Linked DNA regions of Homo sapiens. The protein of the gene in region 7 interacts with the protein of the main gene of each other region in a biochemical or structural test. Each region holds a gene or a part of one and is shown on either strand. Other genes may lie near its edges. The genes, in order: CCP110, HLTF, MCM10, LATS2, CUL4A, CEP78 and DCAF1.

The links.
Region 1: of the proteins of DCAF1 (region 7) and CCP110, one has a biochemical effect on the other in vitro, tested with the Homo sapiens proteins (one study listed by BioGRID).
Region 2: of the proteins of DCAF1 (region 7) and HLTF, one has a biochemical effect on the other in vitro, tested with the Homo sapiens proteins (one study listed by BioGRID).
Region 3: of the proteins of DCAF1 (region 7) and MCM10, one has a biochemical effect on the other in vitro, tested with the Homo sapiens proteins (one study listed by BioGRID).
Region 4: of the proteins of DCAF1 (region 7) and LATS2, one has a biochemical effect on the other in vitro, tested with the Homo sapiens proteins (one study listed by BioGRID).
Region 5: the proteins of DCAF1 (region 7) and CUL4A form a complex in vitro, tested with the Homo sapiens proteins (one study listed by BioGRID).
Region 6: the proteins of DCAF1 (region 7) and CEP78 form a complex in vitro, tested with the Homo sapiens proteins (one study listed by BioGRID).

Annotation. Positions count from the first base shown.
Region 1 is NC_000016.10:19,529,659-19,534,197, forward strand, and holds part of CCP110 (centriolar coiled-coil protein of 110 kDa), read left to right. Parts: intron 1-2,757; coding exon 2,758-2,886; intron 2,887-4,539.
Region 2 is NC_000003.12:149,028,850-149,032,342, forward strand, and holds the end of HLTF (helicase-like transcription factor), read right to left. Parts: coding exon 3,371-3,493; 3' UTR 1,278-3,370; downstream 1-1,277. UniProt on the Homo sapiens protein: Has both helicase and E3 ubiquitin ligase activities. Possesses intrinsic ATP-dependent nucleosome-remodeling activity; This activity may be required for transcriptional activation or repression of specific target promoters.
Region 3 is NC_000010.11:13,164,199-13,168,737, forward strand, and holds part of MCM10 (protein MCM10 homolog), read left to right. Parts: 5' UTR 1-4; coding exon 5-11; intron 12-4,539. UniProt on the Homo sapiens protein: Acts as a replication initiation factor that brings together the MCM2-7 helicase and the DNA polymerase alpha/primase complex in order to initiate DNA replication. Additionally, plays a role in preventing DNA damage during replication.
Region 4 is NC_000013.11:20,981,587-20,986,125, reverse strand, and holds part of LATS2 (serine/threonine-protein kinase LATS2), read left to right. Parts: intron 1-2,319; coding exon 2,320-2,902; intron 2,903-4,477; coding exon 4,478-4,539. UniProt on the Homo sapiens protein: Negative regulator of YAP1 in the Hippo signaling pathway that plays a pivotal role in organ size control and tumor suppression by restricting proliferation and promoting apoptosis.
Region 5 is NC_000013.11:113,257,747-113,262,285, forward strand, and holds part of CUL4A (cullin-4A), read left to right. Parts: intron 1-2,860; coding exon 2,861-3,013; intron 3,014-4,539. UniProt on the Homo sapiens protein: Core component of multiple cullin-RING-based E3 ubiquitin-protein ligase complexes which mediate the ubiquitination of target proteins. As a scaffold protein may contribute to catalysis through positioning of the substrate and the ubiquitin-conjugating enzyme.
Region 6 is NC_000009.12:78,276,493-78,280,589, forward strand, and holds the end of CEP78 (centrosomal protein of 78 kDa), read left to right. Parts: 3' UTR 1-3,198; downstream 3,199-4,097. UniProt on the Homo sapiens protein: Centriole wall protein that localizes to mature centrioles and regulates centriole and cilia biogenesis. Involved in centrosome duplication: required for efficient PLK4 centrosomal localization and PLK4-induced overduplication of centrioles.
Region 7 is NC_000003.12:51,412,275-51,416,813, reverse strand, and holds part of DCAF1 (DDB1- and CUL4-associated factor 1), read left to right. Parts: coding exon 1-27; intron 28-1,956; coding exon 1,957-2,190; intron 2,191-2,770; coding exon 2,771-2,864; intron 2,865-3,427; coding exon 3,428-3,532; intron 3,533-3,747; coding exon 3,748-3,821; intron 3,822-4,333; coding exon 4,334-4,435; intron 4,436-4,539. UniProt on the Homo sapiens protein: Acts both as a substrate recognition component of E3 ubiquitin-protein ligase complexes and as an atypical serine/threonine-protein kinase, playing key roles in various processes such as cell cycle, telomerase regulation and histone modification.

The DNA.
Region 1 (4,539 bases), on a different chromosome or scaffold from region 7:
TCTCTTAAAAATAAGGACATTCTCCTATGTAAAGCCCCAATACCATTATCACATCTTAAGAAAACTAATAATTTTTAATAATATCTAATAATTCTGTTCATATTTAAATTTTTCCATTTGTGCTCAAAATGCCTTTTATAACTTTATTCCCCCAATCTGGATCCAAAGTTCACAATTAGTATTTGCTTGTTATGTTTCTTTATTTTAATCTAAAATAGCTACTGTACGTCTTAAAAACAGTTTTTTTTATTGGTTGAGCATGGTGCCTCACGCCTATAATCCCAGCACTTTGGGAGGCTGAGGTGGGTGGATTGCATTGCTTGATCCCCAGAGTTTGAGACCAGTCAGGGCAACGTGGTGAAATCTCATCCCTACAAAAAATACAAAAAAGAGCTGGGTGTGGTGGCGCGCACCAGGAGTCTCAGCTGCTCTAGAGGCTGAGGTGGGAGGATCACCTGAGCCCGGGAGGCTGAGGCTGCGGTGAACCCTGATCATGCCACTGCACTCCAACCTGGGTGACAGAGTGAGATACTGTCTTTAAAAAAATAACAAAACTATGATACTGAATTTTTAAAGAGACCAGAGCTATTGTCTTGTAGAATTCCTTAGATCTTGGATTTGTCCCATTGTTTCCTAATAGTGTTATTTAACTTGTTTCTCTAGTCCCTGTAGTTCCTATGAACTGGAAGTGAAGTTTGATAAACAGGTTAAAGATTTTTGGAATTCTTTGAAGATAGGGCTGGGCGGGGTGGCTCATGCCTGTAATCCCAGCACTTTGGGAGGCTGAGACCAGCCTGGCCAACATGACGAAACCCCGTCTCTACTAAAAATACAAAAATTAGCTGGGCGTGGTGGTGGATGCCTGTAATCCCAGCTATGTGGGAGGCTGAGGCAGGAGGATCCCTTGAACCCAGGAGGCGAAGGTTGCAGTGAGCCAAGATCCACTGAACCCAGTAGGCAAAGGTAGTGAGCCGAGATCGAGCCACTGCACAACAGCCTGGGCAACAGAGTGAGACCCTCTCTCAAAAAAAAAAAATGTAATCCCAGCACTTTGGGAGCCCGAGATGGGTGTATCACTTGAGGTCAGGAGTTCGAGACCAGCCTGGCCAACATGGCGAAACCCCTTGTCTACTAAAAATATAAAAATTAGCTAGGCATGATGGTGGGTGCCTGTAATCCCAGCTGTGCGTTAGGCCGAGGCAGGAGAATCGCTTGAACCCAGGAGGGATCGGGATCGCACCACTGTACTCCAACCTGAGACTCCATCTCAAAAAAAAAAGGAATTCTTTGGAGATGATGCCCTGCACTTCATACTAAATTAAATCAGAAGTTACATAATGTTTAGTTGCCCTCTATTAGTGATGTTTAGTTTGAACACTTGCTTACAGTAGTGACTGCCAGATGGCTCTTTAAAGTACACATTTTCTCCTTTTGATTAGCAAGTAAATTGTATAATCATTCTTTGGTACCATGCAATTAGGAAAAAGTTTTAAAACAACATATTTATCAGCTATTTGATAACACATTGCTTGATTTAATGTGGACCAAAATGTCTGAGGCTTGTTGTGTAGGGTCTATGACTCCGTCTGTTATTTATTTATAAGCAAAATGTGATGTTTATGGACCTAATCCACACTTTTATGTTGTATTTGATAGGTGAATATTGCAACTTTTGAAATAATTTTTTAATGATATATTTTCTATTTGTGTAAGTCTACGATAAGTCTTGACTGTTAACAGTGATTTAATTTCCCAGGACTTAATAATTAAGATTGAAATCCATTATAAAGAGATACAATGCTTAGAAGCCTTCCATTTTTTAGGTACATTATATTTTTATCAGAAGGTAGAGTGAGGTGAAAGAAAAGATGTATTCTGCTTTTGTAGGCAAATAATATATTATCTGTTTATTTTATCATTAAACCTTTGGACATTTTTTGAGGCAGCAAAGAGTTAAATTGTGCACTGGTTAGAAAATTAAAAGTTGTAGAATCCAGTTGATCCAGTGAAATAAGATACTGAAGATGGGCCAGGCGCGGTGGCTCGCGCCTGTAATCCCAGCACTTTGGGAGGCCGAGGTGGGCAGATCACAAAGTCAGGAGTTCGAGACCAGCCTGACCAACATGGTGAAACCCCATCTCTACTAAAAATACAAAAATTAGCTGGGCGTGGTGGCACGCGCCTGTAAGCCCATCTACTCCGGAGGCTGAGGCAGGAGAATCGCTTGAACCCAGGAGGCGGAGGTTGCAGTGAGCCGAGATCGCACCACTGCACTCCAGCCTAGGTGACAGAGCAAGACTCCATCTCAAAAAAAAAAAAAAAAGGATACTGAATGTGAAGTAATATTCAAGTCAATATTCAAGTGAAGTAATAAAAAACTCAGCAGTGGCCAAAAGGGCCTTAATTTTATTTCTGTCATTTTAGAACATTTGATTAGTGAACAAACTTTTTTCTTTTTAACCTTTTAACTGAAAATAATTTACACATAGCAAAATGCACAAATCTTAAGTGTTAAAGTTCCATGAGTTTTGATATATGGCATACACATGTATAACTCACACCCACACAGGATTTTCTTCACCATGGAAAGATCTCTAATGCCCCATCCCACTCAGTACCCAGACCATTGTTCTGATTTCTTTCACTATACATTAGTTTTGCCTGTTGCACATGTTTTTAATCTTTCTGATTCACAACTTCCCGATTTTATGATATTTTTATCGTGGGAAATAATTACATTTTTATGATGTTTTGCAGCTTAACATTGAGAAAAGAAAGGAAATGCAACAAGAAAAGCAGAAAGCACTTGATGTAGAAGCAAGAAAGCAGGTTAACAGGAAGAAAGCTTTACTGACTCGTGTCCAGGAGATTCTTGACAATGTTCAGGTGTGTGATTTTAGCTGTTTCAGTTATAATAAAGAAATCATAAGATAAGCGTTGATGATAATTTTTCTGAAATATATTTGCACTTAACTAATTACTAATGTACTTTACTGTTACGTTTGAGAAGCTTCATAATTTGTGATTTTCCATTTCAGTTACTCCAAAGAGAATGTACTTGCTTGTTAGTAATGCCCAGTACTTGAATCAGAGGATATTTACACAATAGAACCATACACTGAATATAATTGCTTATTGTTTGCATCTTATGACTCTAAAAACATTGAATTCTCAGTGACAAAATGACAGAATTGGGTATTATTGTTTACCCCAAACTAATTAGACTATTGACTAAATGACCTTATTCTCATTCTTTGCTTAAGTAAATAACTGCCTCCAATTTTTTTTTGGTGAAAACTCTTAGATACACAAAATGCAGTTTAGATAACATTGAATTGTTTAGATGCATCCTATGTCTAAAAACTATTTAAACAACACATCTACACCTTGTGCAGTTATTTTTAGATTTGTATAAACAATTTGTTCTGACATGTGGATCATTTTGTACTAAAAAGAAAAACAAATGAATTAGATTGAACGAATAATTTCTACAACATATAGCAGTGTTCTGCTGGTAACATCTTTTTGTTTTTTCATAATCTTAGGAGTTTGTGGTTTGTCTGTTTAATTCGTATCGATGACACGTGTATAATGAACCTTAAGGGTTCATTTCTCTGTTGGTAGTGTAAACTGAAGAAAATGACTGAGGCAAGTCTCAATCGATTTAGAGGTTTGTTTTGCCAAGGTTGAGGATGTGCCAAGGAAAAAGAGACAAAAGTTACAGTAGAATCTGTGGCTTATGCTTTTCCAGAAGAGGTTTTGAGGACTTCAGTGTATAAAGGGGAGAGAACAGCAGGAGGGGAAAGAGGAAAGAAAAAAAAAGGAGGGTAGGTAATGAGATAAGCGATCACATTTTTGTGAGGCTTTGATTAGCACTCACTGAATCCACAAGTCGCATGAGAAAGGTGGGGGTAGAGGAACAGTCAGTTATGCATTCATCTCAAGCTCAATAAATCTGCATTTTACATAGGATAAAGTAAGCAGAGTAGAGGAAGAAGTCAAATATACATTTGTCTCCAAAGGGATGATTTCTAGTCATCTTTGGTCTTTGTCCGTATCTTGTCAGAGTGAAATTCAGCAGAACTCTGGGTTGGTGTAAAGATTTTGGGGCCTACGAGGAATTTCCTTGTGAGCAATTTGCAAGAGAGTCTACCTGGGTAGATAGGTGGCCTTCTATTTTGCAGCTATCTGTTTAGGAATAAAAGGAAGGCAGTTTTTGTGTGACTCAGTTCCTAAGCTTTACTTTTTCCTTTGACATGTGATTTTCCATTTCAGTTACTCGAAATCCCTATGTAATGAGTCTTCAGAATCTGATGAAAAAGTCAAAGGAATATATAGAAAGAGAACAATCTAGACGCAGGCTGAGAGGTAGTATTAAGAGAATTGTTAATGAGAGTCATAGTGACTCTCATGTGACATAGTTGAGTTTGGGGTCCTGAGATATTATTTCCCTTTCACAGTAGTATATAGTGTGTGGGTAGTAGATTTCATTTTGCAGATTATAATTACTGTCCATATTAAGTTTAAAAAATGTATTGA
Region 2 (3,493 bases), about 98 Mb from region 7:
AGCTGGGACTACAGGCACGCACCACCACGCCCAGCTAAATTTTGTATTTTTAGTAGAGACAGGTTTCACCATGTTGCCAGGATGGTCTCAATCTCTTGACCTCGTGATCCACCGGCCTTGGCCTCCCAAAGTGCTGGGATTACAGGCGTGAGCCACTGCACCCAGCAAATTTTTAAATTTCAAATAAGTAGTGAAGGCTATTATTAACTTTTGGAATCAGAAAGAATGACAAGCTTACCATAAGACATAGCATATAATGCTGTCAAGTTATTTGGCTAGAAAATCACTGAACTAAACATTCTTTTCCTTCTATGATCTATGTCTTAAGGTGAAGTATTAACTAACTTTTCCATGTAAAGCTATACAAATATTGGAAAATCTTTTCTAGGGAGTCCAGAATACTAAGGGTTACTTAGTAAAATGTATAAAAAGGCAACAGTAATTCAAATTACAAGATTTATATTTGCAGAGGTGATCCATATATACTTATCCCCTTGCAGTGGCTGGTATGACCTTTGGTTGTAAGACAAACTTGCCCACAACAGAGGTCAAATCCATGCCTTTGGAGATTAGCTCCATGGTGGATGGAGCTATGGTTTATGCATAAAGTAAATGTTTGTTTACCTTAATTCTCCTTATACCCATATTGTCCTGCTGTATAACACATTTTGCAGATATTTTGAAGTTAATGTGTTAAAAACTTGAGGTTAAACATTTGAGTTTTTGTTAAGAGCCAAACATCAAATGTGCCCTTATATTTTTAATGAATCTCATCCAAATGCTAATGCATAAACCTTGACAAGTAGTATAAATAAAACAAGAAAAAAATACAGCAATGTCTTTGCCATTCCCCAAAACAAAGCACACACTGCCGAAGATCATTAGTACTCACTGGTAACAAACTACATAGGGTTAGTTTGTATTTCCAATTCTAGAGCTGTAATTTTAAGGACAAAATGTACAATGATTGATTAAGAGTGCTATCTGTGTATATATAGGTATTATCACAACTCCTTTTTTTCTTCCAGATGAAGAAATTAATTGGGACCAATGTTTTTAGATCAAGGCATTTTAAATAAGCACTCTTGATTTCTGAACAAGAATTTCAACCAGCTAAATTGAGCAAAATAAAGTTAGTTAGGATATGAGGACATTATTCTGTTACAGTAATCTTCATGTACTCTCAAAAAAATGTAACACTTGCATAGAAATGTCACAATTAATGAAGGATTTTATTTGAAGATAAAGTCAAAATTATGGCACCGAGGAAGGTAATAAACATTTGAAATTTTTATTGATTTTTAAATTTAAAATCCAGTTTTAACCACAAAATTGTTTGAATCACAAGTGGTAATACAATGTCTTCAATATTTTTCTAAAGTTATTTTTCTATATAATAATAAGACAACAGCATAGCATATAGGAAGTTTTCATTCCAGTGGCTTTTTTATATATTTATCCTTCTTAGGAAGGACAAATTAAATTTTTTAAATTAAACTTTTAAAATATAACAACATCTAACAGAACTGTACAAAACAAAGAGACATTTTTTAAACAACTTGCCAAACTTACTTATGAGTGTGTTTTAAAAACAACTTTGTAAATGTCTGGGCAAAGAAGCAAGCTGTCCTCCCTTTACCTTCATAGTGAGTTTGTAAGGCTTTGTCTTTGTAAGCAGAAAGAGTAGACTGTGTTGTTTTTTGCCAAAAACTGTTTATACTTAATCTCACTGAAGTATTGCTATATGGAGAACCCATACTCTGATCAACTTGATTTTTTGTGTGTAATGCTTGATCTACCAGGTAACTTCCCAACTGCTCCTAATGCTAGCGGGCTAATCCCACATTATTATTCCACTATCATCCCTGCAGAAAGGTCTTGGTTTTGATGAAAATCAGCCCTTTCCTTACCTGCTACTGCCTCAAAAAGGGACCAGGAAGATTCTAGCTGGCTAATTCACTGTTCCCTTTGAGCAAGAAAACGGCACAGGGAGAAAAGGACTTATCTGGTGAGAGATTTGGCATATACCTTCAATGTGTGCCCTATAACACAACATTGTCTCCGATCTCATCTTTCTATCAAATGACTTCCAACACTCTTAAGTCTCAGGTATTCTTAAATCTGTATCATCAAACATGAAGCTTCTCTTGTTTGTTAGAGTAATTAATCTTTCTTTGGATTAAAGTTTCCCTTTGAAATAAAACCACCTACCTAATCTGACTGCTAAATTTCTAGCTTCTTTGTTTTAAATATGCTCAGGAGTCAACCCAAATTCTGCAGCAAATAAGTTTGCTTATTAACAAAAAAGTAAAAAAAAAAGAAAAGAAAAAAGATGACTAATTCTACAGATAGCTGTAAGGATGAATTACTCAAGTTCAAAATCAAATTCTGATTCTAAACACATAACAATTGTTTACATTCAGGATTAAGATGTCTTTAAGAGTTGAAACGACTTTGGAGATCATCCAGCCCAACTTCCATCCAGATATCACGCCTCTCACATATAGTAGTCTTCTGAATTATAAAAATTTATAAAGTTACTTCCAAAAAAAGCTACATAAATAAAAATTATCTATTTATAGAAATATCTATTTAGCAGTTCCATAATTTAAAATATTCAAATCAAATTGGGTAGGACTGGTTTGCCTCTCACTCCCACAGACTATATTTATACCTCAGACACAGCAAGTTACATTTAAACAATGAGTGTAGTACTACTTAACTAAAATGGAAAAAATAGTACTCTTAACATAATCCCTAATTTTTTCATGAACATAAAACTCCAAGTCATTTATGTGAACTATATCTCAATGTAGCTGTAGGAAAAATAAAAACCTGTGCTAACCTGGACTTTGGTCTCATTTAAGATTTGGTTCTGGAATGCAAATATGGTTTTTGAAAGCCCAATAAAATTAATTCTTGTATAGTCTGTATATATTGTTTACAAGGACTACAAACACTGCATCACAAATCGGAGGCTTTGGTAAATAACTAAGTGTCCAACATAGAAAATAACTATTTGGTCAAAAGTATAAAAGGTCTGACCTTATTTGAAATACGAAAAAGCTGAGTACTTGGAAGATACGTGAAAATACTCAGCATAGATATTATGAAAAGCTGAATAACAAAGTAACCTTTTTTCTCAAATTATTTCAGGCCACAGTATATAACGGAACTTATTGCTATTTGAAGTTTCATTAAAAATAGGTTCATATATAGAAGAAATTGTGTCAGTAATACCTCTTCACTAATATAAAATATGCCCCTTTTAGAAGACGTGTTCTCTAGATCTCATTTCTAAAACTCTGTATTTTTCTCATTTCTAAAACTTAAGTATCCAATCAAACTGACCTTACTAAAATCCCACAAATTATAAGTCAATTAATGTTCTGATTTCATTAATTTTGGCTTGTTTCATTTCGTCAGCATTTGGTTTTTTAGTTCCAAAGGCTCCTGCTGCAAGTTCTCTCTTTTTGTTTTGTATTTTCAGCAT
Region 3 (4,539 bases), on a different chromosome or scaffold from region 7:
CAGCATGGATGGTAAGACCTGGCAGTTTTCTGTTACTCTGTTTCAAGGAAAACTAACCTTTTGTCCATGGACTTGTTATTTATTCTACCTGTAAAATGGTGAAAATGCTCCCCAGCCCTCAGGTATTGTCTTAGTGGTTCTGAAGCAATCTCACATCTCACAGAGGTCACTGAATGTTACTTGCTTTTATCAGGGGAGATTTCTTCTGGCAACAGAGATTGTCTTTCATAATTACAATAGCTGGTAGGTGTACAGTGGGCCAGGCACTGCTCCAAGATCCTTGTGGAAATTAACTGATTCAGTCCTCAGGCAAACGTATTTTATAGGCAGAAAAACAGGGATGTTTAGTAACTTGTCACAGTTCAAGCTGGCATAGCAGGGCTTTGAACCAGGCAGTCTGACTTCAGAGTTTACATTTGATAATGAAATCTGCTGAAGCGATATTAGTCTAGCTCTGACTTAAGTTTTTATTAATATCATCCTTTCTAATTTTGTTCATTTTGCAAGGATGTGTACAAAATGTTTACCTAGAAAAGAGATGTTGCACTAATTAGCGATCACCTAAAATGATTGTGCTGGGCTGGACGCAGTGGCTCACGCCTGTGATCTCAACACTTTGGGAGGCCGGGGTGGGAGGATTGCTTGAGCCCAAGAGTTCAAGACCAGCCTGGGCAATAGAGTGAGACCTCATTTCTATTTTTAAAAAATTAAAATGATTGTGCTGGTTGTGAAGAGATCTAGTTGCATAATTGAACTCATAATCTGAAACTGGGTTTTTTTAAAAAATTCAAACATATTACACTTTGCCCTTTAAAACAAAACTTGAAATTCCTCACACTGTGATGCACAGTGGACCCCCGTTGTCCCTGAGAGATGTGTTTCCACACTCCCAGCAGATGCCTGAAACCCAGGATGGTACCAAACCCTAGGCATGCTGTGTTTTTTCCTGTACATACATACGTGTGATAAAGTATAATTTATGAATTAGGCACAGTGAGAGATGAACAACAATAATAAAATGGAACAATTATGACAATATACTGTAATAAAAGTTATGTGAATGTGGTCTCTCTCTAAAGTATCTATTGCACTCTCAAAATATCCATTGTACTGTCCTCAACCACAGTGACCATGGAAAATCAAAACCACAGAAAATAAACCCTCAGATAAGGGGTTATTCCTTATGTGAAACTCATTGCCTGATGCTATCATGGTAGTTTCCTGTTTCTTAAAATTGGCAAATTGCCTACAGGGCAGGTTATATAATACAAAGCATCACTTTTTGCTATCAGATTGACATGAAAATAAGAGGTGAATGGATACCTGTTCTCTAAGAAATCATAGTATCTATCTGGAAACAGTATAGGTCAAGAAAGAAGAAATCATAATGTTTAGGCTGGGTGCGGTGGCTCATGCCTGTAATCCCAGCACTTTGGGAGGCCAAGGTGGGTGGATCACCTGAGGTCAGGAGTTCGAGGCCAGCCCGGCTAACATAGTGAAACCCCATTTCTACTAAAACTACAAAAATTAACCTGGTGTGGTGGCATGTGACTGTAATCCCAGCTACTCAGGAGGCTGAGGCTGGAGGATCACTTGAATCTGGGAGGCAGAGGTTGCATTGCATCGAGATCCCACTACTGCACCTCCAGCCTGGGTGACAGAGCAAGACTCCATCTGAAAAAAAAAAAAAAAAAGAGGAAAAAGAAATCATAATATTTAGTAAGAAAATCTCATTTGATTGGCATGGGTTCACAATTTGGCCGGTGTAGAGGAAATCGGAGACTGTATGGTACTTGGGATATACTGTTGAACAATGTTCCTGCTTATATTTTAGTGGAGGGAGAAAGATAACAAAACAATAAACGGGTAGTTAGTAGATGGGAGACACTGCTATGTCTTTGTATGCTGACAGGAGTGCTTCAGAGGAGAGGGAGAAACTGGGGATTCAGGAGCCAGAGAGGTGGTAATTGTAGAATGAAGTCTTTGAGAAGCTGAGAAGTGGGACCCAATGTAAGAATGTAAGTGGAAGAATTGGCTGTGAATAGCACTAGATACTTAGTCCCAGGAGGGAAAGCAGAGAAGATACGTTCAGAGTTGGGAGTGAAGGATGAGGAAGTCTGATTACATCTATTTTTTCTGTAAAATATAAGCCAAGGGCTGGGCGCTGTGGCTCACGCCTGTAATCCCAGCACGTTGAAAGGCCAAGGCAGGTGGATCACCTGAGGTCAGGAGTTCGAGACCAGCCTGACCAACATGGAGAAACCCCATCTCTACTGAAAATACAAAATTAGCTGGGCGTGGTGGCACATGCCTGTAATCCCAGCTACTCGGGAGGCTGAGGCAGGAGAATCACTTGAACCTGGGAGGTGAAGGTTGCAGTGAGCCGAGATCGTGCCATTGCACTCCAGCCTGGGCAACAAGAGCAAAACTCTGTCTCAAAAAAAAAAAAAAATACATACATACATATATATATATATATATATATATATATCATCAGCTAAGAGTAAAGAGTGGGGAGTGGGCATAGGAGGTTTGAGGAGAGACAGTGTGAAGTGGTCAGAGCCTGGGAAAGCGAATGAATTGAGGAAGTGTGGGAATCTTTAAGCAGTGCTGAATGCTTGTTTGTTATGGGTGTGCAAAAATTTAAAGTTAGACTGAGGCAGGGTCTTGTTGATCATACCTGTAGTCCCAGCACTTTAGGAAGCCAAGGCAGGAGCATCGCTTGAGGCCAGGAGTTCAAGACGAGACTGGGCAACATGGCAAGACCCCATTTCTACAAAAAAATATTTAATAAGCTGGGCATGGTGGTGTGCACCTCTAGTCCCTGCTGCTTGGGAGGCTAAGGCAAGAGGATCGCTTGAGCCCAGGAGTTTGAGGCTATAGTGAGCTAAGATTGCAACACTGCACTCCAGCCTGTGTGACCCTGTCTTGAAAAATAAATAAATAAATAAACAAACAAAAAAGACCAGTCAGCATGGTAGCGAGTCTTTCTCCAGGACCATTCACCAGCCAGGGAGCTGAGTCTTTAGAAGGCAGTGAGTGATGATGGTGTTGAACATGGATCCACAGGGAGGGCATTAGGGGCAGGGGGTGATGGACAGGAAACACATTGTAGGTAGGCTGATGGGTTAGACATGTGGATGAAGCTGAAGAGCTGCTGGATGTGAATACTAGAGTGAGCGGGCTGAAAGGATGGGAGGTTGGATCACAGAGGGACGTTCAGAGGTCAGTTGTGCTTTGCTGTGATGAGTTGGAGTTACTATGGGAGTGGGTAGCTAAGATGGGGAGTGGATGAGAAACCCAGCGACCAAGATGTTGGCTGGATCATCCTTGCGGAGGTTGAAGTGCCCCAGGAGGGTGATAACAGTAGAGATGGAGGGGAGGACCGGGGGGGGCATGCATGATACACATATGATGATCAGCACATGACAGTGCCATGAGGGGTTCTTGATGCCAGCGTCTGGTGTCTTGAACTTCAGAGAGCTGTGATCTGGAAAAAGACTGAATCATTCCAAAGTGACAGTGATAAAGAAGACATCAGGAACCTGAAGTTGATCAACAAGTATTTGTTGCATGCCTAATACGTGCCGAACACTATTCTAGACATTGCCATGTGAGGTGTGAACAATTAAATGCTTTCCATTCAAGAGGCTTCCAGGGGTAGCCAGATTTCTGTTGTAAGAGCCACTGGGGATCCGAGAAACGTGCTGATAGTAGATTTCACATCCCAGGGGTTTGAGAACAAAGAGGCTGGGAGATTGAGTCAGCGTAATACAGAGAAGACATGATTTTTGGTGGTGACTGAGGTAAACGGGGTTGTGAGGCACCATGGGATTAGCCCTCGTTCTCTTGTGAAGGGTTCAAAGTGAATAGTATGGGGTCCCCAGGCAGCATTTTCCACCTGTGGCCCCCAGTGGTGTGAGCCAGAGCCTCTTCCCGGGGTGTGCCCTCTTTGGCAGACGGGAACAAGAGATGGTGGAGGCCTCTTTGCTTCCTTGCAGGCATGTGACATTCTCAGAGCACAGGGGGCTGCCTGGCCTCTTCTCTCTTGCACTGTGCAGCCTTGGAGTCTTTGTGGACTAAGCAACTCAAGCTAATCCTTATACAACCTCTGACTGAGCATTAGGCCCCATCATCAGATTCTAGGCCTGAAGTTTGGCTACTGGCTTTTTCCTTCTGGTAAGGGAGTGTAGAGTGGTGGAAAGGATATTGGTTTGCTGATCTAGAGATTCCTTATTAACCCAGCTCCTGAACTGATCTGTTTCTCCATGTGATCCTGAACAAGCCCCTCACCCTCTCATACTCTAGCCCCTGAATTTCAGACAAGGAGAGTAGGTCAGATATCCTTAATATTTTTCCATTGAATACCTCTGATTTTATAAACAAATAGTGCCCAAATAGGGGGGAAAAAAGAGCAAAGAAAATAGATAAATCAAGAAAGAAGAAATCCGATTGGCAAATAAACAAACAATTCTTAACCTCACCAGTAATCCAAGAAATGCAAATCAAAACAGTGAGATGCCTTTTTAAATCGTCCAT
Region 4 (4,539 bases), on a different chromosome or scaffold from region 7:
TTCCATGCACCTCTTAGCCATTTGTGTATCTTCTTTTGACAAGTGTCTATTCAGGTCATTAGCTCACTTTTTTTTCTTTTTGAGACAGAGTTTCGCTCTTGTTGCCCAGGCTGGAGTGCAATGGCACGATCTCAGCTCACCACAACCTCCGCCTCCCGGGTTCAAGTGATTCTCCTGCCTCAGCCTACCGAGCAGCTGGGATTACAGGCATGCACCACCACGCCCAGCTAGTTTTATGTTTTTGTAGAGACAGGGTTTCACCATGTTGTTCAGGCTGGTCTCAAACTTCCGACCTCAGATGATCCACCTGTCTCAGCCTCCCAGGGTGCTGGGATTACAGGTGTGAGCCACCGCGCCTGGCCTTATTTTATTTATTTATTTTTTAATTAAGACGGAGTCTTGCTCTATTGCCCAGGCTGGAGTGCAGTGGTGAAATCTCGGCTCACTGCAACCTCTGCCTTCTGGATTCAAGCTATTCTCCTGCCTCAGCCTCCTGAGAGCTGGGACTACAGGTGTGCGACACCATGCTCAGCTAATTTTTGTATGTTTAGTAGAGACGGGGTTTCACCATGTTAGTCAGGCTGGTCTCAAACTCCTGACCTCAAGTAATCCGCCTGCCTCAGCCTCCCAAAGTGCTGGGATTACAGGCGTGAGCCACCATATCTGGCCTTTTGGCTTACTTTTTAATGGGATTATTTGATATTTTTTTTGCTGTTGAGTTGAGTTCCTTGTATATTCTGAATAATAGTCTTTTGTCAGATGAATAGTTTGTGAATATTTTCTCCTGTTCAACACAGGTATCCTCTTTACTCTGTTGTTTCCTTTGCTCTGCAGAAGCTTTTTAGCTTAATATAGTCCCATTTGTCTACTTTGGGGTTTTTTTGCCTGTGCTTTTGAGATTTTAGCCATAAAAATCTTTGCTCAAACCAATGTCCTGGAGTATATTTTCATAGCCTCTGGTCTTATTTCTAGGTCTTTAATCTGTTTTAAGTTGACATTCCTATATGGTGAGAGATTGGGGTCTAGTTTCATTCTTCTGCATATGGATATCTAGTTTTCCCAGCATGTCTCTTTTTCAGTGTACATTCTTGGCACCGTTGTCAAAAATCAGGTGGCTGTAAATACGTGGACTTATTTCTGGGTTCTCTATTCTGTTCCATTGGTCTATGTGTCTGTTTTTATACCAATACCATGCAGTTTCAGTTACTCTAGGCTTGTAACATATTTTGAAGTCAGGTAACAATTTTGTTCTTTTTGCCTAGGATTGCTTTGAGTATTTGGGCTCCCTGTGAATTTTAGTATTGTTTTTTCTAGTAATGTGAAAAATATCATTGGTATTTTGATAGGGATTGCATTTAATTGGTAGATTGATTTGGGTAGTATGGTCATTTTAACAATATTAAATCTTTCTGTCGGTGAACATGGGATCTCTTTTCATTTGTTTGTGTCCTCTTTAGTTTCTTTCTTCAGTGTTTTGTAGTTTTCTTTGTAGAGCTCTTTCACTTTTTGGTTAAATTTACTCCTAGATTTTTTTTATAGCTGTTGTAAATGGCATTCATTATTGGTGTACAGAAATCCAGATATCCATATGCAGAAGAATGAAACTAGACCCTATCTCTCACCATATACAAGTCTATCTAATGTATGCTACTGATTTTTGTATGCTGATTGTTGACTTTTCTTCCTGCTTTCCCATTTTCCCTGAGTTACTGAAAGATTAGATGGCTCTTGGAGTTCTAGGAATGCTGTGGTCCCCTTTTCCACAGATTTGTGTTAATAGAAGTTTCCCTTAGTTTTTAGAGCCAAAAGTATCCTAGAGAAAGAACTTTCTTTTTTATCTTAACTTTTCATTCCATATTCATGTCTATATATGGATATAAAAAAACAAAACTGGCCGGGCACAGTGGCTCAAGCCTGTAATCCCTGCACTTTGGGAGGCCAAGGTGGGCAGATCACCTGAGGTCAGGAGTTCAAGACCAGCCTGGCCAACATGATGAAACGCTGTTTCTACTAAAAATACAAAAATTAGCCAGGTGTCATGGTGGCGGGCACATGTAGTCCCAGCTACTCGGGAGGCTGAGACAGCAGAATCGCTGGAACCCAGGAGGCGGAGGCTGCAGTGAGCTGAGATTGTGCCACTGCACTCCAGCCTAGGCGACAGAGCGAGACTCTGTAGTATATGAGACCCATTCTTCTCTGTTCTCCTTTCTGTAAAATGAGCTAGGTTCCTCTCAGTTCCAGGGCATCCCCATCCCAGTCATTTGTTATCATGGGACTTCTCTAATGTGATTCTTCCTCCTTCCTTTTCCTTCTACACAGGCTGGACTCTGTGAAGCTGAGCAGGAGCAGATGCGGAAGATCCTCTACCAGAAAGAGTCTAATTACAACAGGTTAAAGAGGGCCAAGATGGACAAGTCTATGTTTGTCAAGATCAAAACCCTGGGGATCGGTGCCTTTGGAGAAGTGTGCCTTGCTTGTAAGGTGGACACTCACGCCCTGTACGCCATGAAGACCCTAAGGAAAAAGGATGTCCTGAACCGGAATCAGGTGGCCCACGTCAAGGCCGAGAGGGACATCCTGGCCGAGGCAGACAATGAGTGGGTGGTCAAACTCTACTACTCCTTCCAAGACAAAGACAGCCTGTACTTTGTGATGGACTACATCCCTGGTGGGGACATGATGAGCCTGCTGATCCGGATGGAGGTCTTCCCTGAGCACCTGGCCCGGTTCTACATCGCAGAGCTGACTTTGGCCATTGAGAGTGTCCACAAGATGGGCTTCATCCACCGAGACATCAAGCCTGATAACATTTTGATAGATCTGGATGGTCACATTAAACTCACAGATTTCGGCCTCTGCACTGGGTTCAGGTGGACTCACAATTCCAAATATTACCAGAAAGGTATTGTCTGAAGTGTGCCACATGCACTTTCTATGTGTAGATGTCACTAACCCCATTGCAAGCAACTAAATTTCCCATCCTAGTGGCTCCTAATCATTTTGAAATTTTTATCTGTCACTCCATTATTTTATAAATTGGTGTGACATCCTTCCCTTCCAAAAGGAATAGTGTGATATGCATTTTTTTTTAAGGTAGTGGATTTCAGGTTTACTTTTTTTTTTTTTTTTTTTTGAGACAGAGTTTCGCTCTTGTTGCCCAGGCTGGAGTGCAATGGCGTGATCTCGGCTCACTGCAACCTCTGCCTCCTGGGTTCAAGTGATTCTCCTGCCTCCAGCCTCCCGAGTAGCCGGGATTACAGTCACGCACCACCACCTCTGGCTAATTTTGTATTTTTAGTAGAGACGGGGTTTCTCCGTGTTGGTCAGGCTGGTCTCAAACTCCCAACCTCAGGTGATCCGCCTGCCTCCGCCTCCCAAAGTGCTGGGATTACAGGTGTGAGCCACCGTGCCTGGCCTACTATATTTTTAAGACAGTAGGCTACAAGGTGTCACGGGGCCTTTGTGGGGAACCATCACCTGCCTCATTAAAGCAAGCCTTAAAAAATAAAAGATTTGGCTGGGCATGGTGGCTCACGCCTGTAATCCTAGCACTTTGAAAGCCCAAGGTGGGCGGATCACCTGGGGTCAGGAGTTCGAGACCAGCCTGACCAACGTGGAGAAACCCCGTCTCTACTAAAAATAACAAAATTAGCCGGGCGTGGTGATGCATGCCAGTAATCCCAGCTACTGGGAGGCTGAGGCATGAGAATCGCTTGAACCCGGGAAGCAGAGGTTGCGGTGAGCTGAGATCGCGCCATTGCGCCCCAGCCTGGGCAACAAGAGCGAAACTCTGTCTCAAATAAAATAAAATAAATAAAAGAGTCACAGCCTCCCAAGGAGCCCTCTCTTATAGCCAACCTGCATCTATGTAGTGTATCATTGAACTCCATTTCCTATAGTTCTGCCATTTGGAAAAGCCAAAAACAGCTGATTATTATCTTCTTTATGGCTGAGATTCTTGAAGTAGTTATTTTAATATCATCACTTAGTCTTTTTTCTCTAACTCAAAACTAACTCTAAATCATTTAATTCATTCTCATTTTCTGGCATTGAAGTAACCTTTGTTCATGTTGTTTAAATCCTCCTAAGTTTTCCATGCTCATCTTAAAACATGTGTCAGGCAGTTGTTACCTTTTGATTATGGCCTAAGCGCTAGGAGTGCTGTCCCCGCAGTTCTTCCAGCCTCTCCTGCCTGCAGTGCCTTCCTGCCAGCTCAGCACGGTGCATGGTGTCCTGTGATTCTTCACCGTCATTTCTACCTTGGTGCTAGCGCCAACCTCACCACGTGTGTCTCCAAACTAGGAACAGCAGGCTGCCCCTATGGAGCAGCTCAGCGGGGATTCTCTGTCCTGATATGTCAGGAGCTGATTGGAATGACTTTGCTGTTTTAAGCTGTGGATCTGTTGAGTTATTGAAGAGTGAAAATTCACTTTATATTTTGTTCTTTTCTTTCACTATCCCTGATTCCTGGGTGAAGGGAGCCATGTCAGACAGGACAGCATGGAGCCCAGCGACCTCTGGGATGATGTGTCTAACTGT
Region 5 (4,539 bases), on a different chromosome or scaffold from region 7:
CCCTTAACCAGAGTTTTAAAAAACATTTATACTATGTTATTTTTCTAGAAGTTTTTACATTTAAATCTTTCTTTTCATGTTGCAGAAATTATTTTAGTATCTGAAAACAGTCTAACTGCCCCCATCCTTTCCAAAACCAAATTTAAAATATCATCCTTGAACAAGTTATTTGAATTATCACCTTATTATGTATCAAATTCATATAGGTCAGTTTCTCAATTCTCTTCTATAAATTCTGTGTCTATTTCATAGCCAGCCATTTTTTTTGTTTTGTTTTGTTTTGTTTTTTGAGACAGTGTCGCCCAGGCTGGAGTGCAGTGGTGTGATCATAGCTCACTGCAGCCTCAACCTCTTGGGCTCAAGCGATCCTCCCACCTCAGCCCCAGGCATATGCCACCACGCCCAGCTAAATTTTTGTATTTTTTGTAGAGATGAGGCCTTGCCATGTTACCCAGGCTGGTCTTGAACTCCTGGGCTCAAGCAGTCTTCCTACCTTGACCCCCCAAAGTGCTGGGATTACAGCCGTGAGCCACCGTGCCCGGCACCAGGTTCTTTTAATTAATGTAGCTATTCCTATAACTTTATTCTTCCAATGAACTTGACAATAATTGTATCACGCCTTTGCTCCCCCAAATAAGAACATTGACATTTTTAATCCATATTGCATTAATTTACAGAGCTTTTATCTTTATCATATTAAATCTTGTGATTCATACATATGTGTATATATGTAAATACATACAAATCTTTTTCTCAGAGCTTTCTAGTTTTCTTCTGTAAGTCTTGCATATTTCTTGCTAGTCATAAATTTTCATTCATTCAACAAATACTTATTGAGCATCTGTGGTGGCCCAGGTCCTCTGTGAAGCACTGAGAATTCATCCATTAACAATAAAGAATAAGTCCTTGTTTCTAGGAGTGTTCAGTCTTTTCCAGCAGAGAGGTAGCAGAGGATCACACACATTGACTAACTTGTAAGAGTGGAGGAAAATGTTAGGATAGAGAAGTGCAGGAGAGTCTAATTAAATACTGTCGTCAGCCAACGCTTTCCTGAAGAAGTGACTAGCTTTGCTCAGGAACTGAAAGAAGGCCTCTGGCTGCAGCATCGTTGCCAAAAGGGGAAGCTGAGCCAGACAGGCCTGATCAGGGAGCCACAGCTGGACCCTCTGAAGATGGCTCAGATCCATGAAGCATTTGGAAAACCACTAGAGTTTTAAGCAAGACAGGCTAATGAAATGCTGATATCTTATAAAGGGGACCTTTTTTCTTTACATTTCTGACGGTTTTTATCAGAATGTATGTATTAATGCTATTTGTCTTTGTATATTTATTTTATTTCCAGCCACTTTACAAAACTCTTTAGCTTTGAAAGTTTTTCTGTTGATTTTCTTGGATTTTCCAGCTCATCTACAAATAATGATCGTTTTGTCTGCACCTTTTCAATATACCTCTTTAGTCTGTTCCTGTATTGCATAGTTAGAACCTCTAAAGTAATGTTTTTAAGGAATAGCAGTGCAGCTGAGCTTCCTAATTTTATCTCTAGTTCAGAGGATGTTAACTTTTTGGGGGTCATGGATCCTGTTGAAAATGTGATGAAAGCTTGGAGTCTCTCCCATCCTGAAGCATACTTGCCTCATATGTATGCACAGACCTTCCCCCAGCCCTCATTTCAACTGCAGATCCCCATCAGGTTCCTGTTGGACTAAGGTTAAGTTGTCTCTAGTATTTGCTGTTTGTTTCTGATAACCATGTTTTATCATGTTCAGATGCTTTTTTATTCATCCTTGTATGCTAATGTTTGTTTTAAATCAAAAAATCAATTTTATCATGCCTTTTCAGCATCTATCAAGATGGTCATGTAATCTAACCTTTCAACTGCTACAGTGCTCTCACTTATATTCACAGATTTCCTAATGTTGATCAACACTTAACATTTCTGGAATATATCCTGATGGTCATTATGTTTTGTTTACTGTGCTGCTAGTTTTAATCTACATCACACATAGAGTTGTTGCAGCTTTCTTATAAGGAAAATAACTTTTAAAAATATTTTTTAAGTTTTGGTTTTGGAGTTTTGCTATTCTGGGAAGGTACCTTTTACTACAACAAGTAAACATGCATAATAAAGTAGGATTCATCCAATGTCTGACCTTTCTTTGCATCAAAAGAACATTTCCGGCCAGGCACGGTGGCTCACGCCTGTAATCCCAGCACTTTGGGAGGCCGAGCCAGGTGGATCACGAGGTCAGGAGATCGAGACCAGCCTGGCTAACATGGTGAAACCCTGTCTCTACTAAAAATACAAAAATGAGCCGGGCATGGTGGGGGGGCACCGTAGTCCCAGCTACTTGAGAGGCTGAGACAGGAGAATGGCGTGAACCCGGGGGGCGGAGCTTGTAGTGAGCCGAGATCGCGCCACTGCACTCCAGCCTGGGTGACAGAGTGAGACTCCGTCTCAAAAAAAAAAAAAAAACCATTTCCCATCAAATTCGGTAACATCAGGTCATTAATATTGAAATATAGGCCAGGTGTGGTAGCTCACACCTGTAATCCCAGCACTTTGGGAGGCCAAGGTGGGCGGATCATCTGAGGTCAGGAGTTCAAAACCAGCCTGGCCAACATAGTGAAACCCTGCCTGTACAAAAATACAAAAAGTAGCCGGGCATGACAGCAGGTGCCTGTGATCCCAGCTACTCGGGAGGCTGAGGCAAGAGAATCGCTTGATCCTGGGAGGCGGAGGTTGCAGTGAGCCGAGATCACACCATTGCACTCTAGCCCAGGCAACTGAGTGAGACTCCATCGCAAAAAATAAAAAGAAAATACAGTTTTACACTTAACTTTTTTTTTCTTTTTTATACAGGTTGAGGAACAGGTTAGCACCACTGAGAGAGTGTTTCAGGATAGACAATATCAGATTGATGCTGCTATCGTCAGAATAATGAAGATGAGAAAGACTCTTGGTCATAATCTTCTAGTTTCTGAATTATATAATCAGCTGAAATTTCCAGTAAAGGTAAATGTAACATTAGCATAATTAAATTTGTAGTATTTGCTAAACAATTGACAAAGCATGTTTAATTCTATGTTCAGTCATATCATTTGACCTGCATTATTCATGGTGCTTTGTGTATACACTGAATGTAGAAAAACTGGCAAATGTGAAGCTCTTTATTCCAGGTGTTGCTCATTGCCACTGCAGAAATGATAGAGCCCTAAAACTCTCCTTCCCAGGGATGGTGCGCGCTTGTTCATATTTTCAGGAAGGGAAGAGGTAGATGGGACATGGAAAGCTGAACACTTTTCTCATAGTAGTAGCGGTCAAGGTTACATCACAAGATTTTAAGGAAATGATAACAATAACTAACTTACTCAGCGTTTACAGCCTACACCGCGTTTTCCACCACGGTAATAGTCTACTGTTGCTGTTGCTTATGAAAGTCAGCCCAGGCCTGTCAACCCGCGTTGTTTTCAGAACTGAGATTTACTGTCCTGCCACGTGTGGGATGCAGGATAAGCCGGGAAAGTATTATGAAACGTTTTTTACATGTATTTATCAACCCAGGAAATACTGAACTCTGATGACGCCTGGCCTCTCAGGGACAGGACCGGCCACACGTGCTTTGGAGGGAAAGTCCCCAGATTCCATGTTGTGCAGTTTGAGCCTCCCATTCCATCAAGGGAATAAAGTTGAGATGCACTAAATAGTCGAACACTTAAGAGTCTGGTGGAAGTGCCACTGTCCATCAGCCCACATTTGCCCCCTTCCCTGCAGAGGTGAGGTGCCGTCCTCAGGGCCCTGGGAAGCTCCAAAAGCACCATCAGGTTCACTGCCCCTTCCTCCCACCAGCTGGAGCAAGTCTCCTGTTGCCACTGCAAACAATCAGGCCCAGCGCGAAGCAGAGGTGAGCAAGAGTGGAGTGTGGCAGACCAGGGCACCTGCTCTGCTCTCGGGTAGAGAGTGGCAGACCAGGGCGCCCACTCTGCTCTCAGGGGTAGAGTGTGGCAGACCAGGGCGCCCGCTCTGCTCTCGGGTAGTTGGGTTTTTTTTTTCTTTGAGATGGAGTCTTGCTGTCCCCCAGGATGGAGTGCAGTGGCACGATCTCGGCTCACTGTAACCTCTGCCTCTCGGGTTCAAGCAGTTCTCCTGCCTCAGCCTCCTGAGTAGCTGGGCTTACAGGCACGCGCCACCACACCCAGCTAATTTTTGTATTTTTAGTAGAGACAGGGTTTTACCGTGTGGTCAGGCTGGTCTCAAACTCCTGACCTCGTGATCCGCCTGCCTCAACCTCCCAAAGTGCTGGGATTACAGGCGTGAGCCACCGCGCCCAGCCTCAGCCACATCTTGTAAAATGTGTGGCTTATCACTGAATAGAAGGTGAAGTTTGTTTGGAAAATAGAGGGTCTCCCTTGTATAGGGAGAGCCTTGCACGTAAGTGCTCACACAGATTTTCTTCCTAATACAGCAGAGCTGGAGTGGCTGTTCCCTCTGGGCAGAGACAGGCTGTGGCTGTGGATTCGTCTCCTCAGTCACCTACTCTT
Region 6 (4,097 bases), on a different chromosome or scaffold from region 7:
AATATGGGGTCTTTTTTTTTTTGGACAAAAAACCCCCTGTGATGATCTACTGGCATGCTATTACAGCTAATAAAGCTGAATAAGGAGGCTGTGCACAACACCAACACACCGGTATGAAAAGTGTGTACACCAGCAATAACCAATTAGAAAATGTATGAGGAAATAGACTCTCATCCACAATAGCTGCGAGAAGTAAATATTATCTAGAAATAAGATTAACAAGAGAAATGTAAGGCCTATATAAATAAAAGGATAAATCTATGCTAGAGGGTATAAAAGAAACACAAAAATAGAGGTATGCCATGTATAAGACCCAACATAATAAATAGTTCTACCAAATTAATTTATAAATTCAAAGCAATTTCATATAACCACAGTAAAGCTTTTTAAATGGATGTAATAACCTGATTATAACATTAATCTGAAAGTCATCAGGCATAAAGCAATTTTGATTACATCTCAAAACAATCCATGGAGTTAGGGTAAATGTGCTGTTCACACAGGAATAATCACAGGTATAGAACCGAGAACCTAGGAACAGAGCAATGTATATATATATGTATTTAAAAAATGGCATCACAAGTCAGTAGAGAAGGGTTTGAACTATTCAGTAAATGATGTTGAGGTTATTTACTACTTTTTCTTATTTCATATCATGGATGAAAAAAATCAAGATGAATTAAACATGGAAATTAAAAATAACTAGAAGAAAATACTGGAAAAAAATTGTAATAAATGTGTAAGAAAGGCATTCCCAACCAAGACACAAAACCCAGTAGCCATGAAAAAAAAGATAGATTTGACTACATTTTTAAAAAGTAAAACCTTTCACTTTTTACAAAACTTTGATAAAATTAGATTTCATAAATAAAGGAGTGGGAAAATACATGTAATAGAACAGAAGATTTAAGATAATATAAAGAGCACCTACAAACAACAAAAATTGGACAAAGGCTATAAAAATATTTTATAAATAAGAAATACAGACTATAAACATAAACTTTCAACCTCGTAAGCAATCAGGAAAATTAAAGTTAAAATGAGATACTATTTTTCAATACATTGAAATGGCAGATTATTAAAGATTGGTGATAGTGCTGGAGATAATGTGAGGAAAGGAGTATTCTCAGTCATTGTAGAAATTGATACAGCTTTTGGATGGACAGTTTGACAGTGTGTATCAACATGTGAAATGTCTCCAGCCTTTGATCTAATGACTAATTTTAGGCATCCAGCCTGAAGAAATATTCACACAAGTGCCCAAAGAGTCAGATACAAGACTGTGTGAAGTGTTTTTTGAGATAATAAAAAACTAGAAACAGCATAAATGTACAGAAATGCAGAAATTGTTGAATTAGTACATACCAATTTCTGACATATAACACTCTGCAGCAGATAAAGACAATAGCTCTCTAGTGTGGACATGAAAATATTTCTAAGACATTGACAGGACGAAGAAGTTGCACAGTAACCACGCACTCCTGTTTACATTTGTATAGTTAAAACTTGTTTACCTATACGTAGCATATATGCGTGTGTGCACCCTAGAAAAGAGTCTGTGATAACACATATCAAGCTATTGACAGCGGTTTTGTCTGCTGAAGGAGGAAAAAAGGGGGGCTTCTCACATTTTACTCCATTTAATTCTAGGTTGTTTGGTTTAAAAAAAAAGTTTTTATGTACAACAGACAATTTTTAAAATTCCTTTTCATCATAGAAAATGAAAATGTGTACTCTGTTATCCTTTACGCTCTGTCCATTTTTTTCTTCAAAAATGTGTCTGACCTATTATCAATGTGAATGAAAATGAGCTTTGCTACATAACCTCTTTTCAGAGCTTTGTATTCCTGAAGTGTTGGAGTCGCCTACATGGCATAGTCAAATGTTTTTAACTTAACCACAACCCACAGTAAAAATGAAGCTTTCTGCAAAGTTAAAAGTAGTAGTCCTGGCCCCACCTTCCTTGTGTGCACGTATAATTAATGGAAAATTGCATCAAACAACTCTGATTGTACTTCTAGTGACTAATTCATGTTCTGTTCTATTCCTTGCCTTTAAAGAAAATTATGTTGGCAACTCACGAAGTATGTTTCACAATCCACTAATGGGTAATGTCCTACTGTTTGGAAACACTGGCTAGAGTGTTTCAAACATCTGCTCTGTTTACCCCTGACAAAACTGCTACTCGTGGGGCAATGCAAGTCTTTCCCACATTTGTTTTATTTTATGGCTAAAAGTCATTTCTGCATTTGCAAATTACTTCCAAAGCCTACCTTCCTTGAGCTCTTTAACTCTCTATAGTCTTCTGGTAATTTTCTTTAGATTTCCCTTTTCAGAACCCTTTTGTGACACTGAAAACCTGAGTTTTCAAACTGATACATCTACCTGAGAATTTTCACATATAATTTGGTCAAAAAGTTAAAAAATAAGAAGACTTTGCCCTGTGACTGAGGTGCTCAGAAGGTATGGCTGGCTGCTCACAAAGGCACATAGTGAGTGATAGGGGCTGAAAGGGCTCAGAGAATGCCCGAGTTCTCTTAGTACAGTTTGTACATTTTAAACCACTGTGAACTGAAAAAAAAAAAAAAGGCAACCTTGGTAGTTTAGAAATAGATAAGGACCCACTTATAGATTAAATAATAATTAGCTTGTTCCAGAGAGACCAGTGAAGATTAGTTGGTTTATTTAATGTGTTAGAAAGATGGTCCTCAAAGTCCTTGAAATGTGAAGGCGGCTTTTATCTCCTTAAGAAAACAAGAAAACTCCACAAAATCTTGAAAGCTAGATAATCCTAGCTTAAATGATAAAATTTGAGTAGAGTTTGAAAACACTAAAATCAGTTTGCCAAATAACCAGCTCTAATTTCTTTATACCAAAGCCAAACTTCACCTAAATCTTACCTAAGAATTGAGTTCCTTATTGTAACCAGATAGGAGACACTTTTGTATATTATTCCAAATATTGCAAACCTACAAGGAGTAAAAGGTGTTATTATTTTAAAGAAGAAGGAATGAGGCCTGAGAGGTATTGATTCACTTGGTTGAGGGCTTCAAGTAGCACAAGGCAAAAGCAGGATTTGTTGACTTCCAAACCTGTTTTCTTCCTTCACCATGTGGCCTTTGCATCTTTCCCACACAAATATTATTCCACAAATATTTATTGTCACCAACTATAATAAAAGAACAGAACTATGTATCAGAGAGGCTGCAGGAGTGAGTTCTACCCAGGTCCACACTGCTGCTCACAGTCAAGTAAACTGCAGGCCGTTTTTGTGATGCCTGGCTGGAACGGCAAGTGAGGCATGGTATTCATTGGCTGGGCGCGGTGGCTCACGCCTGTAATCCCAGCACTTTGGGAGGCCGAGGCGGGCAGATCACGAGGTCCGGAGATTGAGACCATCCTGGCTAACACGGCGAAAACCCGTCTCTGCTAAAAATACAAAAAAATTAGCCGGGCGTGGTGGCGGGCGCCTGTAATCCCAGCTACTCGGGAGGCTGAGGCAGGAGAATGGCGTGAACCCGGGAGGCAGAGCTTGCAGTGAGCCGAGATCATGCCACTGCACTCCAGCCTGGGTGACAGCGAGACTCTGTCTCAAAAAAAAAAAAAAAATGGTATTCATTTTCTCTTCTTTAGGGACACCTAGGCTTATATCACTTTCTACAGTTGCTCTCTTTTCCAATTCCAATTTAGTTGGTATAACAATTACAAGTTTAAATTGGCTAATGCCTCAAAATGTTTTGTTATGGCTTTCCATTCCATTCATTTTTGTTTTTGAAAAATTAAATATTTAAAAATATTAAATAACTTTTCGCTGAAATCAGTCTTTTTTTTTTTTTTTTTTGAGACAGTCTTGCTCTGTGGCCAGGCTGGAGTGCAGTGGCACGATCCTGGCTCACTGCAGCCTCCACCTCCTGGATTCAAGCGATTCTCCTGCCTCAGCCTCCTGAGTAGCTGGGACTACAGGTGCACATCACCACACCCAGCTAATTTTTGTATTTTTAGTAGAGATGGGGTTTCACCATGTTGGCCAGACTGGTCTCAATCTCTTGACCTTGTGATCTGCCTGCCTCAGACTCCCAGAGTGCTGGGATTACAGG
Region 7 (4,539 bases):
ATCGGCACAAAAGGAGACATTGCCCACGTAAGTACTTAAGAACCACTGTTTTCAAGCTGATCATACCCATTTGTTCATACTGAAATCTTCTTGATAGAATGTGAGGACCTAAGTCCTTTGGGCAACTAGAAATCAGTGATATTCCTTCTAGTTAGAATCTAAAAGTATGATAATATAGTTCTGAGCTGTATGGGAAAAATGTATAAGGGCTAAATGTGACATTGAGAAAGATGTCATTAGCACCACAGATATTTTTGAATTCTTAGTAAGTTTTAGATTAGAAATGAAACCCCTGCCTTTATGGACCCTCATTGGGGAGACAATAAAGAAGCAAATATACGGTAAATTTAGGTGGTAAGTGTTTCAGAGAAAATGAAAGCAGGGTAAGAGGTAGGAAATGCTTGGTGGTGGTGTGGGGGACTTCTCTTTTATCTAGGGTAGACAGCATCACTGATGGGGTAATGTTTAAGCAGAGCCTTGAAGGAAACGCGAGATTCAGGAAGATACCTGGAGGAACAGCGTAAGGCACAGGAAATGGCAAGGGAAAAGCCCTTGCTTGGGAGGTGGGAGGAGAGCTGAGGTCAGTGAGGGGCCTGTATCTGGTAGCATCTTGTAGGTGGTAGTTAGGGCCTTTAGCTTTTTTTTTGAGTGAGATGAAGACACTGGTGGGTGAGTAGAGGATACATGAGTGGATGTAAAGTTCCTGAAGTGTGACTCTGGTTTTTGTGAGAGAAGCAAGAGCAGCCTTCCAGGTCAGAGGGTGTTGTACCACCTGACACATGAGAGGAGCTGTGGGTTTGGGCCTGGGTAGGCATGGTAGAGGCTATGAGAAATGGAGGACCTTGGCCCTGGGATTTTGGACACATGAAATTTGAGATTCTCTTAGACATTCAAGTAGAGAATGGGGATTGAATACAAAAGTTGGGAGCTGGCCAGACTTAGTGGCTTCTGCCTGTAATCCCAGCACTTTGGGAGGCTGAGGTGGGAGGCCAGGAGTTCGAGACCAGCCTGGGCAACATAGAGAGACTCCCCCCATCTCTACAAAAAATAAACAAAATTGGCTGAGCTTGGTGGGCTTGGGACCTATAGTCCCAGCTACTCAGGAAGCTGAGACGGGAGGGTTGCTTGAGCCCATGAGTTGGAGGCTGCTGTGAGCTATGATTATGTCACTGTACTCCAGCCTGAGTAACCAAGTGAGACCCTGTCTCTGAAAATAAAAACAACAAAAAATTGGGAGTTCAAGAGAGAGGTGTGGGTTGGGAAATATAAATATGGGACTTGTCCACATATTGACAGTATTTATTTATTTATTTATTTTTGAGACAGGGTCTTGTTCTGTCACCCAGGCTGCAGTGCAGTGGCACGATCACAGCTCACCACAGCCTTGACTGCCTGGACTCAAGCAATCCTCTTACCTCAGCCTCCTGAGTAGCTGGGACTACAGGCGAGCACCATCACACCTGGCTAATTTTTTTGTATTTTTGTAGAGACGGCATTTCCCCAACGTTGCCCAGGCTGGTCTCGAACTCCTGGGCTCAAGTGATCCACTTTTCTTGGTGTCCCAAAATGTTGGCATTGCAGGCATGAGTCACTGTCCCCAGCTGATAGTATTTACAGCCATGAACTTATATGAGATCATCAAGGGGACTAGAGAAGAGTTGTGGGTATAGAACCCTGGCATGTGTTTAGGAGTTGCCAAATGAGGAACTTGGGAAGGAAATCAAATATAATGGCCAGTAAGGCAGAATGGAACCCCGAGAAAAAGAGGTGCCTGGCCGGGTGCGGTGGCTCACGCCTGTAATCCCAGCACTTTGGGAGGCAGTATTCTGTGGTAATCATTGATCCATGTGGAGAATTTGTGTGTTAATTTTAGAAACTGCTTTGCACATTTTCTCTTTAATTTGTCAGTGGATGGATTGGTCTGATTTTTCTCTTCCCATCCCTTCTTCTCTAAAGATTTATGATATTCAGACTGGCAACAAGCTGTTGACTCTGTTTAACCCAGATCTTGCCAACAACTACAAGAGGAACTGTGCCACCTTTAATCCTACAGATGATCTTGTCTTAAATGATGGCGTCCTCTGGGATGTCCGCTCTGCACAGGCCATCCACAAGTTTGACAAGTTCAATATGAACATCAGTGGTGTTTTCCATCCAAATGGACTGGAGGTGATCATTAATACTGAGATTGTATCCTTTATACTCATGTCTTACCTTCCATTTGTTGTCTGGTTTGTGGTGCAGAAATAATTTGTTCTATCTTTATACCAATACCTGGTTAAAGTGTCCACACTGGTAATAATATGGTGCCTGTCCTTTGGTTTGAAATGTTAGTGAAATCTCCAAAGCACTGTTGCCAATGTTAGTAATTACTGACAACTTTCACTAGCATGTTTTCTATGTATTTGGTAAGAGTGACCAGTTTCCTACCTCCCAGTTCTCCAAGAATTGAATTAGCTTTTATCTGTCTTCAGAAGGATTTTACTTTTGCTCTGTAAAAAATCAGTTGCCACATAAGAGGAAAATGAAGTACTACTGTTGGGAGGAAAAGAGCTCATAAAGCATTCCTGTATATGAGGATACCCTAGGATATTTTCAGAGACATCATTCAATAATATGCATTCTACATGTATTTGTTTTACCTTGATCTCATTGACTTTTAAAGTATCAATACCTGGCAGGAGGAAAAAAAGTGATATTTTAGAATTTCCTCCCATGAGATTAGATAAGTTTTGTGTAAAATAGTTTTCCTTGACCATTCCCCTCCTAGTGGGACCTTCGAACTTTTCATCTTTTGCATACTGTTCCCGCTCTGGATCAGTGTCGCGTGGTGTTCAATCACACGGGAACAGTGATGTATGGAGGTAATAAACCTTATCCTTCATTATTCTCTTTCCTTTTGCTCTACCCCTTCACTTAATTTGATACTTCTTTTTGGAACCATCTCTCACTTGTGAATTGGAAAGCATTTGAGAGTTGTAACATAAAAGATAAAAAATTGATAGTATGAATGGTGACAAAAGATATGAAAATAATGTTGGTTTAGGGTGAAAGGCAGCTTACTTTGAAGATAACAAGGAAATCTTGTATGGAAAGAAATTTCATGCAGTATTTTCCAGTGTATCATTATGAACTTAAGAGCTTTTGCATTTGTCCTCTTGTGTTGTTATAAGCCTTGTAAGTACAGTAACACTTCTTGGAGGTAGATGAGAGGCTGAGGATATTATTTGTCACAATAGGTGGGATATGCAAGGAAGATGCTCTGAGAGGAGCTAACTAGATGCAGAGTAGATTTCTGTACAAGGGAATTTGTATGTAAACCTATATGCAAGTAGATTGTTTTGATTGGCCATTAACATTTTCTGCACTTGTGAAGAGGGGATGTTTGTGATTCCTAATAGTGTTTCCTCCCCCACTCCCCCTCAAGCTATGTTGCAGGCAGATGATGAAGATGACTTAATGGAAGAGAGGATGAAAAGCCCCTTTGGGTCATCCTTCCGAACATTTAATGCAACTGACTACAAACCTATAGGTAAGCAGAAAGGGACAGACATTGAACATTTTGTCGTGTTTTGGTGTTCCTTATTTAAGATCCTTCATTTTCTGGAGGCCTGTAATTTTTTATTGAAAAACAGAGAAGTTATGGAAATACTTTTGAGCAATCATCCTGAATTCCTTTAGAGGAAAAGCAGGTTTTAGGGTCACAGCAATAGTCCAATCCCAATCTTCTCACATTCTATTTTCCAGCAACCATTGATGTGAAACGGAACATCTTTGACCTGTGTACAGACACCAAAGACTGCTATCTTGCTGTCATTGAGGTAAAGGGAGCTTGCAGAGGCCCTGCTCTTTTGTTCTGATGTTTAGGATAATTTTCAAGTTGTACTACAGACATTTTGTCTGATATAAGATGTAAAGTCAATACATTCCTGAAGGTAGATTATTGATAACCTATTCATTTGATGGGGCTTGGGAGATGTACAGTACAAAGAGAAATAGTAAGAAAATCCCAATATAAGACAGCTTAGAGGATCCTGTCTCCTTTTTTTCTGGACTCACACTGTCATCCCTTTCTCAGAGGAATCTGGATCTCTCACCAGAGCAAGACTGGTTTGTTCCAAGGGTGATGGTTCCTCACCAAGTCTTTTCATTCTGTTTTTCTTCCCCTTTATGTGTCCTAGGTATAACATTTTCATAGTCAGCTCAAGAATTTCGGGTATCAGAAGCTTTAATAATTACAGGGTCAAGGTCATGGGCACCAGTCAGGGCTGAGGCGTGGATGTGGACCTTCTGAAAAGTAACTGCTCCTTATGGACTGGATGTTCTATTTCAGAATCAAGGCAGCATGGATGCCCTGAACATGGACACAGTATGCAGGCTGTATGAAGTGGGCAGGCAGCGTCTGGCAGAGGATGAGGATGAAGAGGAGGACCAGGTCAGTGGTCTTTGAGATTTCTTTCTGCTGAACAGTGCTTAATAGAGGTTATGCTCTGCTTTTTGCTGTAGGAGGTTTTAAAGGTCTACTCAACCTTTGCTACC